Homo sapiens: one gene and its partner. The protein of the gene in region 2 purifies or fractionates together with the protein of the main gene of each other region. This does not show direct contact. Each region holds a gene or a part of one and is shown on either strand. Other genes may lie near its edges.

Region 1 (7,040 bases), on a different chromosome or scaffold from region 2:
AGAGCCTTCTCCTGTTCTGGACCCTACTTCTGGTACCAAAATCCGTATTAGTCAGGGTTCTCTAGAGGATATATATATATATATATATATCCTATTACTTCCTTATATACGTGTGTGTGTGTGTGTGTGTGTGTGTGTGTGTGTGTGTAGGGGAGTTTATTAAGTTTTTTTTTTTTTTTTTTTTGAGAAAGAGTCTCGGTCTGTCACCAGGCTGGAGTGCAGTGGCGTGGTCTCCGCTCACTGCAACCTCCGCCTCCCAGGTTCAAGCGATTCTCCTGCCTTAGCCTCCCGAGTAGCTGGGACTACAGGTGTGTGCTACCACGCCCAGCTACTTTTTGTATTTTTAGTAGAGATGGGGTTTCACCACGTTGGCCAGGATGGTCTCCATCTCTTGACCTTGTGATCCGCCTGCCTCGGCCTCCCAAAGTGCTGGGATTACAGGCATAAGCCACCGCGCCCAGCCTATTAAGTATTAACTCACATGATCACAAGGTCCCATAATAGGCCATCTGCAAGCTGAGGTGCAAGGAGAGCCAGTCCAAGTCCCGAAACTGAACCTGGAGTCTGATGTTGGAGGGCAAGAAGGGGATAAACGCACAGGAGAAGGATGTAGGCTGGGAGGCTAGGCCAGTCTCATCTTTTCAGGTTTTTCTGCCTGTCTTATATTCACTGGCAGCTGATTAGATGGTACCCACTCAGATTAAGGGTGGGTCTGCCCTTCCCAGCCCACTGACTCAAATGTTAATGTCCTTTGGCAATACCCTCACAGATACACCCAAGACCAATACTTTGCATCCTTCAATACCATCAAGTTGACACTCAGTATTAACCATCACAAGCCCTATGAAATAAAAAGTTTTATGACCCCTTTCTTCCCAGAATTATGAATGCCAATTTACTTGCTCTACATTTACGCAACTTCCATGACCTGGGGTAGGTAGGTATGCAATGTTGTGTTACTTCCCCATTGTCCATATCCACTTGTGTCCCTGGCCATGGCCAACTAATTTACAGGTTGAAACATTTCCCAGCACCTTGGAAGGCTGTGTGGTGGGAGGATTGCTTGAGGTGAGGAGTTCAAGACCAACCTGGGCAACATAGTGAGACCCCTGTGTCTATAAAAAGTAAAATTAGCCAGGTGTGGTGGCACATGCCCGTGGTCCTGGCTACTTGGGTGGCTGAGCCCAGGAGGTTGAGGCTACAGTGAGCCATGATCATGCTGCTACACTCCAGCCTGGGTGACAGAGCAAGATCTTATCTCAAAAAAACAAAACAAAACGAAACACATTGTACTAGACTGTCTTAGTATTTGAAGCTTGAACAGATACACAGAAAAGACAGGGAAGCCACCTACAATGCATTCTAGAAAGATCATGCTGCTGAGGATCATGGAAGCACCTTAGTTCCCATTGTCAAGCTTAGTTGTTCAGCTCTTCCTTAAGTTATATAAACTATCCCAGAATTCTTCTAAATTCTCCAACCCCTTTAATTTGGTTTAAATTAGCCAAATTACATTAATGTTGCATATAACCAAAACTTAAGGGATATAAATTGGTTGGGAGAATGTGTTGTAACCAGTAGTCTGTCAGGAAACTGTTGCATTTTTAGGTAGTTTTATCAAGCTGAGAAGGGGTGAAATGAGTGAGACTTACCTGACTTTCAAGACATCTATTTTTCAAACCATTTGTTTTCACTTCTTTACTGTGTTATCACCATCCTCCCAGGACTTTACACCAGAAATCTGAAGGTCACCACTGATACCATCTTCCCCCTTTGCTCCTACATCTAATCATTAGTTACATCTGCCAGGTTCCATATCTTGAGTATGTCTTTTCATTTCTACTATTACTGCCTTAGTTCAGGTTACTACTTTTCTTACACATTACATTACTATGGGCTTTTAAATGGCTTCTGTGCCTTTATCTACTCACAAACTATTCTTCATGCTGCAGTCAGAAGTGTTCTAAGCCAAAATTATTCACCTTCCAAAATGAAGATCTAATTATGTTCACAAGTCCTCTCCTTCACCCATTCCTCACCTCTAGCATTAATCTAACACTAGGTTAATCAAGGTAATGGGGTAGAAGGTCATGGGTAACTCCAAATCACACTTTAAATGAACTCTAGTCAAAGTACTGAATACAATGGATTTAAACTTGCTTGGTAAAACTACCTCTAATAATTTAGGAATATATTTGCCTTCTGTGAAAGCCATCGCAAAGTATAAAAATAGTGTAAGTACAGGTATTTAGGCTCACAAAATATCGTTATGACTGAAAAATTGGCAAAGGTTTTTTGTTTGCTTTGCCTCTTCGTTGAGCTCTCTTTCCGTAACAAATGGAAATAGAAGCACACAAATTCAAGAAAGGAGGCTCTAACAGACTGAAGATATTGTGGCTTTCAAAAAGGAGAGAACATTTTAGATGATATGAAGGAAATGTCACCCCGTTACTAAGAATTCACTCTATTCGACAGATATATACACGCTTCAGCAAGTGCTCCTAAGGATGAGAGGAGAGTAAGTTATTTTCATCTAACAGTCTCTATCAACACTCTTCTTAAAACACCTAATGCTTAACAACAGTCTAAAGAACACACTGGCTACTCATACCTCCCATAGGCAGAGACCTTGTCCTTTTTGAGCTGCTGTATCTCAGGTAATCAGCAATCACTTAGTGGATGATAATAATTTGCAAATTCCTCTGGAGCCTCTAAAGACCGTATCATGAATCATCAATTCAAATGCCTACAGGAGTCGGGCAGGTGATATGCAGGAGGAAATAGAGTCATTTAGGGCCCATAACAAAGGGGAGAGAGGCCGGGCGCGGAGGCTCACGCCTGTAATCCCAGCACTTTGGAAGGCCGAGGCGGGCCAATCATTTGAGGTCAGGAGCTCGAGACCAGCCAGCCCAACATGGCGAAACCCCGTCTCTACTAAAAACACAAAAAAATTAGCCAGGCGTGGTGATGCATGCCTGTAGTCCCAGCTACTCCGGAGGCTGAGGGAGGAGAATCACTTGAACCCGGGAGGCGGAGGTTACAATGAGCCGAGATCCGCGCCACTGCACTTCAGCGTGGGCGACAGCGAGACTCCGTCTCAAAAAACAAAACAAAAACAAAGGAGAGAGTACATAAGCCATCTCCAGGCTAGTTTCTTTAACTAGTCTTCATATAATAATCTCCTCAAGGTCCTGTTCTATCCCTACAAAATACAAAACAGTTCCTCGTGTCTTCCTTCAAATATACTACAGTCTTTAGCTCATCAGAGTAGCTGAGTTAGTCCAAGGCATAATCCCAAAAGCGAAACTGAATGTCAGAATTGATCTCATTTCAACACTCATTCCAGAAGTAGAAACTTCTGCAAGTTCAGCTTTTGACTATGAATTCTTCAGCGCGACTTTTGCAGAGAGCTCTGTTCCAAGAAGCTGGCGCCTTAACACAAGCTATCTACCGATGCACAAGGGAAGGCTGGCTTGGGTCCAGATTCGGCGGGAGAGTGGAAACGCGACGCTGGCCGACTTCAGCCACAAAGGCAATTTCTGCCCAGGGCTAGCGTTCCTAAGAGGGGGCCGAGAGAACGCCAGGCTCGGGCGTAGGGGCAAGAAGACCCAGAGCTAACGCACCTCTCGGAGGGCCCAAGCTCAGGGCTCAGTCACCCTCCCAGCTCGGAGCCGGCGCTGGAACACAGCGGCGCGAGGAGAAACCCCTAGAGACAGGGAAAAGGTGGACGTAGCGGCTGACGCTGCCCAGACGCTAGGCGCCGACAGGAGCCTGATTGTCACCGTACGACCAGTGAGGGGGCGGGGCGGAGCTGTGCCTCAAAGCGCCTGCGCGGAGAGCCTGCAATCAGGGACCAGGCTTGGGAGGCGACGAAGAGGAACGCTGGGCGCAGGAGGCCCACTGCATACGCAGGCGCACTCGGCGATCCCGGCTTTTCCGCGCGCAGTTCCCGCACAGGCATCGGGGGGGGCAGGGGCGGGGCAGGGGCGGGGATAAATGCGGAGGGACGGTCCAGCTTTAGCTCTCTGCTCGCCGCCGCCGCTGTCGCCGCCACCTCCTCTGATCTACGAAAGTCATGTTACCCAACACCGGGTAAGGGGGTAGGGGCGGCGCGGGGAGAGACCCTGTCGGGCGAAGGGCGCGTCTCGGTGGGGCCGCCGCGGATCGCCCGGGCTGGCCGGCCCGGCTGTGGGAGGTCAAGGATACTGCCTGGGCACGCTCTGAGCTCTGGTCCGCGCTGGGCACTGTGCACCGAGAATCTGCGGTAACGTGTGAAAAGGAACACAAACTTTTGTATTACAGGATGGCAGCAGTGTAGAAACCTTTTCCACGGGTAAAGGGCCGAGGGGGAGTCACCACGCCGCCCCCAGTGCCGGCCCTCCCTGAGTTTAGCAGGAGTGCGTGCCTGGCCGAATGCGTGTGAGTTCTAGGTGAAAGGTCGCAGGAGCAGCTCCAGAGTTTAAAGAGTTTTCACTTGTTCCTGACGCTCAATTCTAGAGTAATAATGGAGTGTTTAAAAAATGATTTCCAAATTAGAAACTAAACCGATCTTAAAACATGGGTATCTTTGGGGGATTTTTTTTTCACCTTAAAAAATTGTGTTAAAATACGTACAAAATCTGCCATCTTAACCGTTTTTTAAGTGTACACTTCAGTAGTGTTAAGTAGATTCATATCGTTGTGCAGTCAATCTCCAGAACTTTTTTCATCTGCAAGCTGAAACTCTATCCATGAAACAACTCCTCTTCCCCACCTCCGCTCGTACATTGGCAACCACCATTCTACTTTCTGGTTTATGTAAGGTCTGGGTATCTTGAGTTGAGTGACGTGTTGTCAGATTTTGTAATTTGCCTGAAACATGCAGGCATATAGCCAAAGACTTAAAACAGTTCAAAGAGTATAGGGTAAAAAGTGAGTCTCCCCATCCCTAAAATCTAGTTCCCCAGTTACTTACGTTTCTATTTCGTGCATGTATGAACATAATTTGTATACATCCGGATACACACACACACACACACACACACACACATACCCTTTCTTAAAAATAGCAGCAGACTCTATTCTTGGTCTTGCTACTTTTAGTTGGTATGTCTTGGGACATTCTTTCTTTGTTTTTTTTAAAGACGGGGTCTCCCATGTTGCCCAGACTGGCCTGTAGCCTTGAACTCCCAGGCTGATGTTCCTCCCTTCTTAGCCTCTGGAGTATTTAGGATTACAGGCATGCACCGCTGTGCCCAGGGACATACATTTTTAGTACATGGCAGATCTTCCGCCTCCTTTTTTTTTCTTTTGAGATGGAGTCTCGCTCTGTCTTCCAGTCTGGAGTGCAGTGGCATGATCTCGGCTCACTGCAGCCTCCGCCTCCCGCAATTCTCCTGCCTCAGCCTCCCGAGTAGCTGGGACTTCAGGCGCGTGCCACCACGCCCTGTTGATTTTTTTGTATTTTTAGTACAGACGGGGTTTCACCATGTTAGCCAGGATGGTCTCAATCTCATGACCTCGTGATCCGTCTGCCTCGGCCTCCCAAAGTGCTGGGATTACAGGCGTAAGCCACTGCGCCTGGCCCCTCCTCCTTTTTAATGGTTGCATAATATTCTGTAACAGCTTGAGTATCCATTATCCAAAATGCTTGGTTCCAGACGTGTTCGGATTTCAGATTTTCAGATTTGGTTTGCTCAACCTGTATATGAATATACCTTTGTTTATTTAACCTGTTCCCTATTGTTGGATACTAGACTGTTTCCAGTTTTTTGGATACTCTTTTTTTGCTTCCATAATTATACTTGTATTTATCTATTTGCACATATATAAGTGTATATGTAGGATAAACTCCTGGAAGTGAAATTGCTGGATCAAAGAGTAAATGTGGCTGGGCACAGTGGCTCACGCCTGTAGTCCCAGCACTTTGGGAGGCCGAGGCGGGCGGATCACTGGAGGTCAAGAGTTCGAGACCAGCCTGGCCAACGTGGTGAAACTCCGTCTCCACTAAAACTACAAAATTACAAAAATTACAAATACAAAAATTAGCTGGACCTGGTAGCGGGCACCTGTAATCCCAGCTACTCAGGAGGCTGAGGCAGGAGAACCGCTTGAACCTGGAGGCGGAGGTGGCAGTGAGCCGAGATCATGCCACTGCCCTGCCCTCCACCCTGCGAGAGAGAGTGAGAGTCTGTCTCAAAAAGAAAAAAGAGGAAATGCACTTTATATTTTGACAGATATTTCCAGATGACCCCCCAGAAGGGTTGCACACCCAAAAGGATAAATGAGATCCTCTAATCCCACTTGTTGGCTAACCGCAAAATAGTTAATGATGAAAATCTAATTAGAGAAAAAAGTGTCACCTCATTATTGTTAAAATTTGCATTTATTTTATCACAAGTGTGGATTTGGATCTCTTTGTGTATTTAAACCAGGGACAATTTGATCCCCAGAGGACATTTGGTAATATCTCAAGACATTTTTGATAGTCACAATTGAATGGAGATGCTAATGGCATCTCGTGAGTAGAGTACAGGGATGCTGGTGCACATCCTACAATTCACAAGCATTCCGTACAACAAAGAATTATGTAGTCCAAAAGGTCAGTAGTGCAGAGGTTGAGAAACCCTGGTTTAAAGCCATCTATGTATCTTTATATTTGTCTGGCTTAACAAATGAGGTTTTTCGTTAATCTCTGAGGGCTCTGTGTATTTTAAAAATTTGTCTTTTATCACATTACAAATATTTTCCACAGTTTTTCATGTTGCATCTGGACTTTGATTATACTGTTTATTTAACATGGAGAAACATGTTTTTGTGAAGCCAGAGTTATCAGTCTCTTAAGGCTTTTGCATTTTTGAGTTAAACCAAGATCTTTTTTTTTTTTTTTGAGATGGAGTCTTGCTCTGTAAGCCTTTGAGTTAAACCGAGATCTTTCTTTCTGTCTTTCTTTTTTTTGAGATGGAATCTTGCTCTGTATGCCTTTGAGTTAAACCGAGATCTTTCTTTCTGTCTTTCTTTTTTTGAGATGGAATCTTGCTCTGTTGCCCAGGCTTGAGTGC
Region 2 (7,021 bases):
TTTTCCCACTCTTTATTACATCCATGCACAAAATATGTATTCACAAATACAGAAAATATGTTTGTGCAAGTATGGGATTATATAAGCACATCAGTATCATGTCAATACATATAAAACATTTTTAATGACTCCAAAATGTTACAGAAGGATGCATCAATTTTAAAATTAGTCCTTTGTTGATAGACATGTGGTATTTCCATTTTTTTTTTCCCCCTGAGATAGAATCTCACTCTGTTGCCCAGGCTGTAGTGCAGTGGCACGATCTCGGCTCACTGCAACCTCTGCCTCCCAGGTTTAAGTGATTCTCATGCCTCAGCCTCTGGAGTAGCTGGGACTACAGGCGCACACCACCACATCCAACTAATTTTTGTGTTTTTGGTATAAACGGGGTTTCGCCACGTTGGCCAGGCTGATCTTGAACTCCTGACCTCAAGTGATCCACCTGCCTCAGCCTCCCAAAGTGCTGGGATTATAGGCATGAGCCACCGTGCCTGGCCAAAGTTTTGTAATATGACAGAACACTGCAATGAACTGGAAGATAGGACTTTAAATTTGATCCTTTTGCTTGCTTTGTAGTTACTAAATAACCTTGATAGATGATGTTTTAGTAAATCTGTATTTGACTTTCTTATGGTTTTATTAGCTTGGCAAGTGTTGAAGAAAACAGTTCATTCTGAAAGAACACTTCTGAAAATGTACTAAAAGTTTAGCTAGGGAGGGGCACCCCACAATTGAAACCTTTATTTTTCAGTCTGTGCTCCCAAAGATTGGGAGCAAAAAAGGACATTTGGGGTGAGGGGATCATAGAGAAGAGAGGGTGAAAGGAAGAGAACTAATGCAAGTAAAGTGCTTGTTTTACACTTGGTTTGATGGGGAGGTTGGGCCACAAGAGGAGTATACTTAAAATAAAAATTAAATTAAAAGTTTTAGGCCAAGCGTGGTGGCTCACGCCTGTAATCCCAGCACTTTGGAAGTCAAGGCGGGTGGATCACAAGGTCAGGAGATCAAGACCATCCTGGCTAACATGGTGAAACCCTGTCTCTACTAAAAATACAAAAAATTAGCCGGGCATGGTGGCGGGCGCCTGTAGTCCCAGCTGCTTGGGAGGCTGAGGCAGGAGAATGGCGTGAACCCGGGAGGTCGAGCTTGCAGTGAGCCGAGATCGTGCCTCTGCACTCCAGCCGGGGCAACAGAGTGAGACTCAGTCTCAAAAAAAAAAAAAAGTTTTACACGCAGATTTTCCCAAAATTGTGTAAATCAGAAGGGTCTAAAAAAAAGTGAAAATCTCTCATTCTTTCTGGTCTCCAATCTCAGCACAACTTCTCGGGTTTTGTTTGTTTGGTTGGTTGGTTTTTTTTTTTTTTTTTTGAGATGGAGTCTCGCTGTGTCGCCCAGGCTGGAGGGCTGGAGTGCAGTGATGTGATCTCAGCTCACTGCAACCTGCGCTTTCCAGGTTGAAGTGATTCTCCTGCCTCAGCCTCTCAAGTAGATGGGATTACAGATGCGCGCCAACACCTCCAGCTAATTTTTGCATTTTTAGTAAAGCCAGAATTTTGCCATGTTGGCCAGGCTGGTCTTGAATTCCTGACCTCAAGTGATCCGCCCGCCTTGGCCTCCCAAAGTGCTGGGATTATAGGTGTGAGTCACTATTCCTGGCCATCAGCTCAACTTCTCTATGCACAAATGATTTATAGGAATAGAAGGAGCATACCGTACTGTACATACTGTGCTATGATTTATTTATCTTTTTTACCTAATCGATTCATAGTCAGTTTATAGAAATCTGTACAAACTTTTTTTTTTTTTTTTTGAGACGGAGTCTTGCCGTGTCGCCCAGGCTGGAGTGAAGGGGCGCTATCTCAGCTCGCTGTAAGCTCTGCCTCCCGGGTTCATGCCATTCTCCTGCCACAGCCTCCCAAGCAGCTGGGACTACAGACGCCCGCCACCATGCCCGGCTAATTTTTTGTATTTTTAGTAGAGACAGGGTTTAACCGTGTTAGCCAGGATGGTCTCGGTCTCCTGACCTCGTGACCCACCTGCCTCGGCCTCCCAAAGTGCTGGGATTACAGGCGTGAGCCACTGCGCCGACCCTGTACAAACTTTTATAGGGGGGTAATTGAACTAGTCCTCCCCACCACACCCCCCCCCCCTTTTTTTTTTAAAGAGACTGGGTCTGGCTGTCACCCAAGCTGGAGTGCAGTGGCAGGATCATAGCTCACCCCCAGCTAATTTTTTTTTTAGACGGAGCTCCCAAGTAGCTGGGGCTATGGCTAGGTTGCCACTATGCCTGGCCTGAACTACTCCCCTCTTCCCGCCCATCCCCGAACCCCAGATGAAGTCTTGCTCTGTCACCCAGGCTGGAGTGCAGTGGTGTGATCTCAGCTCACTGCAACCTCCGCCTCCCAGGTTCAAGCCTCCCAGGTTCAGCCTCCCAAGTAGCTGGGATTACAGGTGCCCGCCACCACACCCAGCTAATTTTTGTATTTTTAGTAGAGACGGGGTTTCACCATGTTGGCCACGCTGATCTCAAACTCCCGATCTCATGATCCGCCCGCCTTAGCCTCCCAAAGTGCTGGGTTTACAGGCGTGAGCCACCCTGCCAGGGCCTGAACTACTCCCCTTTTTGATAGATGTTGAAATTAACATTGTTTTACCATGCTAAACAATGTTCCAGTGAATATTCTAGTACATAAAATAGCTTTGTGCACTTTAGCTGGTAGGTGCAGGGCAAATTCCTAGAAGTAAATTGCTAGGTCATATGGCAAATACATTTAAAATTTTGATATGTTTTGCCAAATTACCCACCAAAAATATTATATCAATTTATATTCCTTTGAGATACAAAATTCAAATAATATAGAGAGGTGTAAAATAAAAAGAAAAGTTCTCTTGTCCCCAGCTATTCTACTCCACAGAGCCAGCCACTTTTTATTGTTTGGTGGATATCCTTCTAGACTTCAGATTTTGCAAATTGTACATTATAATTTTTTTTTTTTTTTTTTTTTGAGACAGAGTCTCACTCTGTTGCCAGGCTGAAGTGCAGTGGCATGATCTCGGCTCACTGCAACCTCTGCCTTCTGGGTTCAAGCGATTCTCCTGCCTCAGCCTCTGGAGTAGCTGGGACTACAGGCGCGTGCACTACACTTAGCTAATTTTTGTATTTTTTAGTAGAGATTGGGTTTCACCATGTTGGTCAGGATGGTCTCGATCTCTTGATCTCAGGATCCACCCGCCTCGGCCTCCCAAAGTGCTGGGATTACAGGTGTGAGCCACCATGCCTGGCCAGTTTCTTTTTTCAATTGACTGTATATTGTGGCTGTCTTTCCATTTCAATATTATTGGCTACTATATTGTCTACCCTTAGTAGTAGGGACTACGTCAGGGACATGCTAAGTTAGGAATAGAAATAAGGAGCTGTTTGTCTGTAACTGAGTGGGGGGATGCTGCCTTGAGCATCTGTGAGTGTGTATTTTCACACACTTGGGCAATAATTGTTTATTACAGCCCTAGAAATGGGAATGTAATTGTAGCCAGGCACTTTATTTGTGTTTAAACTTCATTTGTGCATTTAGTCTCTCCTCAACTCTGTGAAATAGAAATGATTTTACCTGGTTGACAATTGGGAGCTGGGATAGCATCGGTTCTCTAGACAAGCTCTGTGAGTTTTGGTGAGTGGTAAGGACCCTGTACAGAGTCAGAGCAAATGCACTGGGCAAGGGCTTCAGGGACCTTCGAGTAGCATCTTGACATTTACCAGTGTTATAGAACAGTTAATATCAACAATAGTTTTGATGGAGACCATTAAAGGTTATGTGTTGAAATATTCTAAGAAAAAGTTCCTTTTTAAAAAAAAATTGTTATATTGCCATTCCTTGCTCCTTTTTTGGTCTTTATTTTAGCATTCTTATTTAAAACAGATTTTGAGCACTCTTTATGTGAGCTTTCCTGACTTGGTACATGCTTATTTTTATGGAGAATTTTAATCTTATAGAAATATACTATTATAGTGAATTAAGTGTATCCACCACTCAACTTCAATAATTATTAACTGTTGGCTAATCTTGTTTCATCTATTCCCAAACTCACCTCCCACTCCTCTTCCCTGTTATTTCTTTTCTGTTTTTTTCCCTTTCCTATGATGCCAAGCCTGTGTTTTTTTTTTAACAGCTTTACCAAGAATTCCATATCAGATAATTTGCACACCATACAATTCACCCCTTTAAACTGTACAATTTAGTGGCTTTTAGGATGTTCATAGAATTATTCAACCATTACCACAATTTTAGAACATTTTTATTACCCTGGAAGAAACAGTTTAGCTGTCATTCACCAATCTTCTGGTCTTAGCCCTTGGCAAACACTAATCTACTTTCTATTTATGGATTTGCCTATTGTAGACATTTGATAGAAATGGGATAATGTGTTGTCCTCTGTGACTGGCTTCTTTCACTTAGCATAATCTTTTGGAGATTCATCCATGTATCTATGTATCAGTACTTTTTTTTTTTTTTGAGACAGAGTCTTGCTCTGTCACCCAGGCTGGAGTGCAGTGGTGCAATCTCTGCAACCTTTGCCTCTAGTTTCAAGTGATTCTCCTGCCTCAGCCTCCTGAGTAGTTGGGACTGTGGGCCCACACCACCACCTCTGGCTAATTTTTGTATTTTTAGTAGAGACTGGGTTTCACCATGTTGGCCAGGCTGGTCTTGAGCTCCTGACCTCAGGTGATCTGCCTGCCTCAGCCTCCCAAGTACTTGATTTTTGAAAACAGCCAAATAATATTCCATTGTATGGATATACTGCTTTTTATTTCTTTTCAATTGTTGATGGACATTTGGATTGTTTCCACTTTTTTTTCCTTTTTTTGAGACAGGGTCCTGCTCTGTTGCCCAGGCTGGAGTGCAGTGGTGTAATCTCTGACCTCCTAGGTTCAAGCTGTCCTCCTGCCTCAGCCTTCCTAGTAGTGGGACTACAAGTGTGCACCACTATGCCTGGCTAATTTTGTAAAATGTTTGTAGAGATGGGGTTCTGCTCTGTTGCCCAGGCTTGTCTCAAATTCCTGGCCTCAAGCACTTCTCCCATCTCATCCTCCCAAAGTGATAGGATTACAGGTGAGCACCACTGTGCCCAGCCCACTTGTTGACTGTGGGCTGGGCACAGTGCTATATTATAATGCTGCTATGGCTGGGCGTGGTGGCTCACGCCTGTAATCCCAGCACTTTGGGAGGCCGAGGTGGGCGGATCACAAGGTCAGGAGATCGAGACCATCCTGGCTAACACTGTGAAACCCCATCTCTACTAAAAATACAAAAAAAAAAAAAAAAAAAAAAAATTAGCCAGGCGTGGTGGCAGGCGCCTGTAGTCCCAGCTACTGGGGAGGCTGAGGCAGGAGAATGGCATGAACCCGGGAGGCGGAGCTTGCGGTGAGCCGAGATCGCGCCACTGCACTCCAGCCTGGGCGACAGCGAGACTCCGTCTCAAAAAAAAAACAAAAACAAATAATGCTGCTATGAACATTTGTGTACAGGTTTTTGTGTGGACTCCTGCATACCTGGGAGTGGAGCTACTGGGTCATATAGTAACTTTTTTTTTTTTTTTTTTTTTTGAGACGGAGTCATGCTCTGTTGCCCAGAGTGCAATGGCACAGTCTAGGCTCACTGCAACCTCCGCCTCCCAAGTTCAAATGATTCTCCTGTCTCAGCTTCCCGAGTAGCTGGGACTATAGGCGTGTGCCACCACACCCAGCTAATTTTTGTATTTTTAATAGAGATGGGGTTTCACCATGTTAGCCAGGTGGGCTCAAAACCCCGACCTCGTGATCTGCCTGCCTCAGCCTCCCAAATTGCTGGGATTACAGGCGTGAGCCACTGCGTCCAGCCATATAGGAACTCTTTAACCATTTGAGGAACTGCCAGATAATTTCCCACAATAACTGTACCTTTTATTTTATTTTATTTTATTTATTTTAAATAGACATGGTTTCACTCTGTCGCCCAGGCTGGAGTGCAATGGCGTGATCTTGGCTCATTGCAACCTGTGCCTCCCGGTTCAAATGATTCTCCTGTCTCACCCTCCCAAGTTGCTGGGATTATAGGTGTATGCCACCACACCTGACTAATTTTTGTATTTTTAGTAGAGATGGGGTTTCACCATGTTGGCCAGGCTGGTCTCGAACTCCTGACCTCAGGTGATCCACCCACCTCGGCCTCCAATAGTGCTGGGATTAGAGGTGTGAGCTACTCTGCCCAGCCGTGCACCAGTTCGTATTCCTACCAGCAGTGTCTGAGAGTTTCAATTCCTGTGGTTGTGAAATAAATCTCAGATATAATTTCATCCTAAAGTATTTTAGAATGTATTAATAAAGTATGAGGGATTTCTTTTTCAAATATAAACATAATGCCATTATAGTATCTACTAACATTAATTTTTAATATAATCAAATATTCAGTCAGTATTCAAATTTCTTTCTTTTTTTTTTTTTTTTAATATAGAGACAGGGGCCTCACTCTGTCACCCAGAGTGGAGTGCAGTGGCACAATCTCACTGAATCATTGAACTCCTGGTCTCAAGTGATCTTCCTGTTTCAACTTTCCAAGTATCCAGGACTACAGGTGTGCGCCACCATGCCTGGCTAATTTTTTTTTTTTTTAATTTTTTGTAGAGACACGGTCTTGCTATGTTGGCCAGGCTGGTCTCAAACTCTTGGCCTCGAGCAATCCTTCCACGTCAGCCTCGCAAAGCACTGGGATTATAGGCATGAACAACCGTGCCTGGCTTTGTGTTCAAATTTCTAATTGTCTTATAAATGTTATTTTAGGCCGGGTGCAGTGGCTCATGCCTGTAATTCCAGCACTTTGGGAGGCTCAGGTGGGCAGATCACTTGAGATCAGGAGTTCGAGACCAGCTTGACCAACATGGTGAAACCCCATCTCTACTAAAAATACAAAAATTAGCTGGATGTAGTGGTGTGCACCTGTAATCCCAGCTCCTTGGGAAGCTGAGGCAGGAGAATTGCTTGAACCTG

What was found. Proteins that work in one complex are often made in the same cells at the same time.
Region 1: the proteins of F2RL1 (region 2) and HSDL2 purify together in Homo sapiens (affinity purification with mass spectrometry; 2 studies listed by BioGRID and IntAct, with this or other methods). This does not show direct contact.

What each region holds. Positions count from the first base shown.
Region 1 is NC_000009.12:112,376,089-112,383,128, forward strand, and holds the start of HSDL2 (hydroxysteroid dehydrogenase-like protein 2), read left to right. Parts: upstream 1-4,019; 5' UTR 4,020-4,075; coding exon 4,076-4,092; intron 4,093-7,040. UniProt on the Homo sapiens protein: Has apparently no steroid dehydrogenase activity. Controls bile acid (BA) and lipid metabolism in response to nutritional cues.
Region 2 is NC_000005.10:76,822,021-76,829,041, forward strand, and holds part of F2RL1 (proteinase-activated receptor 2 preproprotein), read left to right. Parts: intron 1-7,021. UniProt on the Homo sapiens protein: Receptor for trypsin and trypsin-like enzymes coupled to G proteins.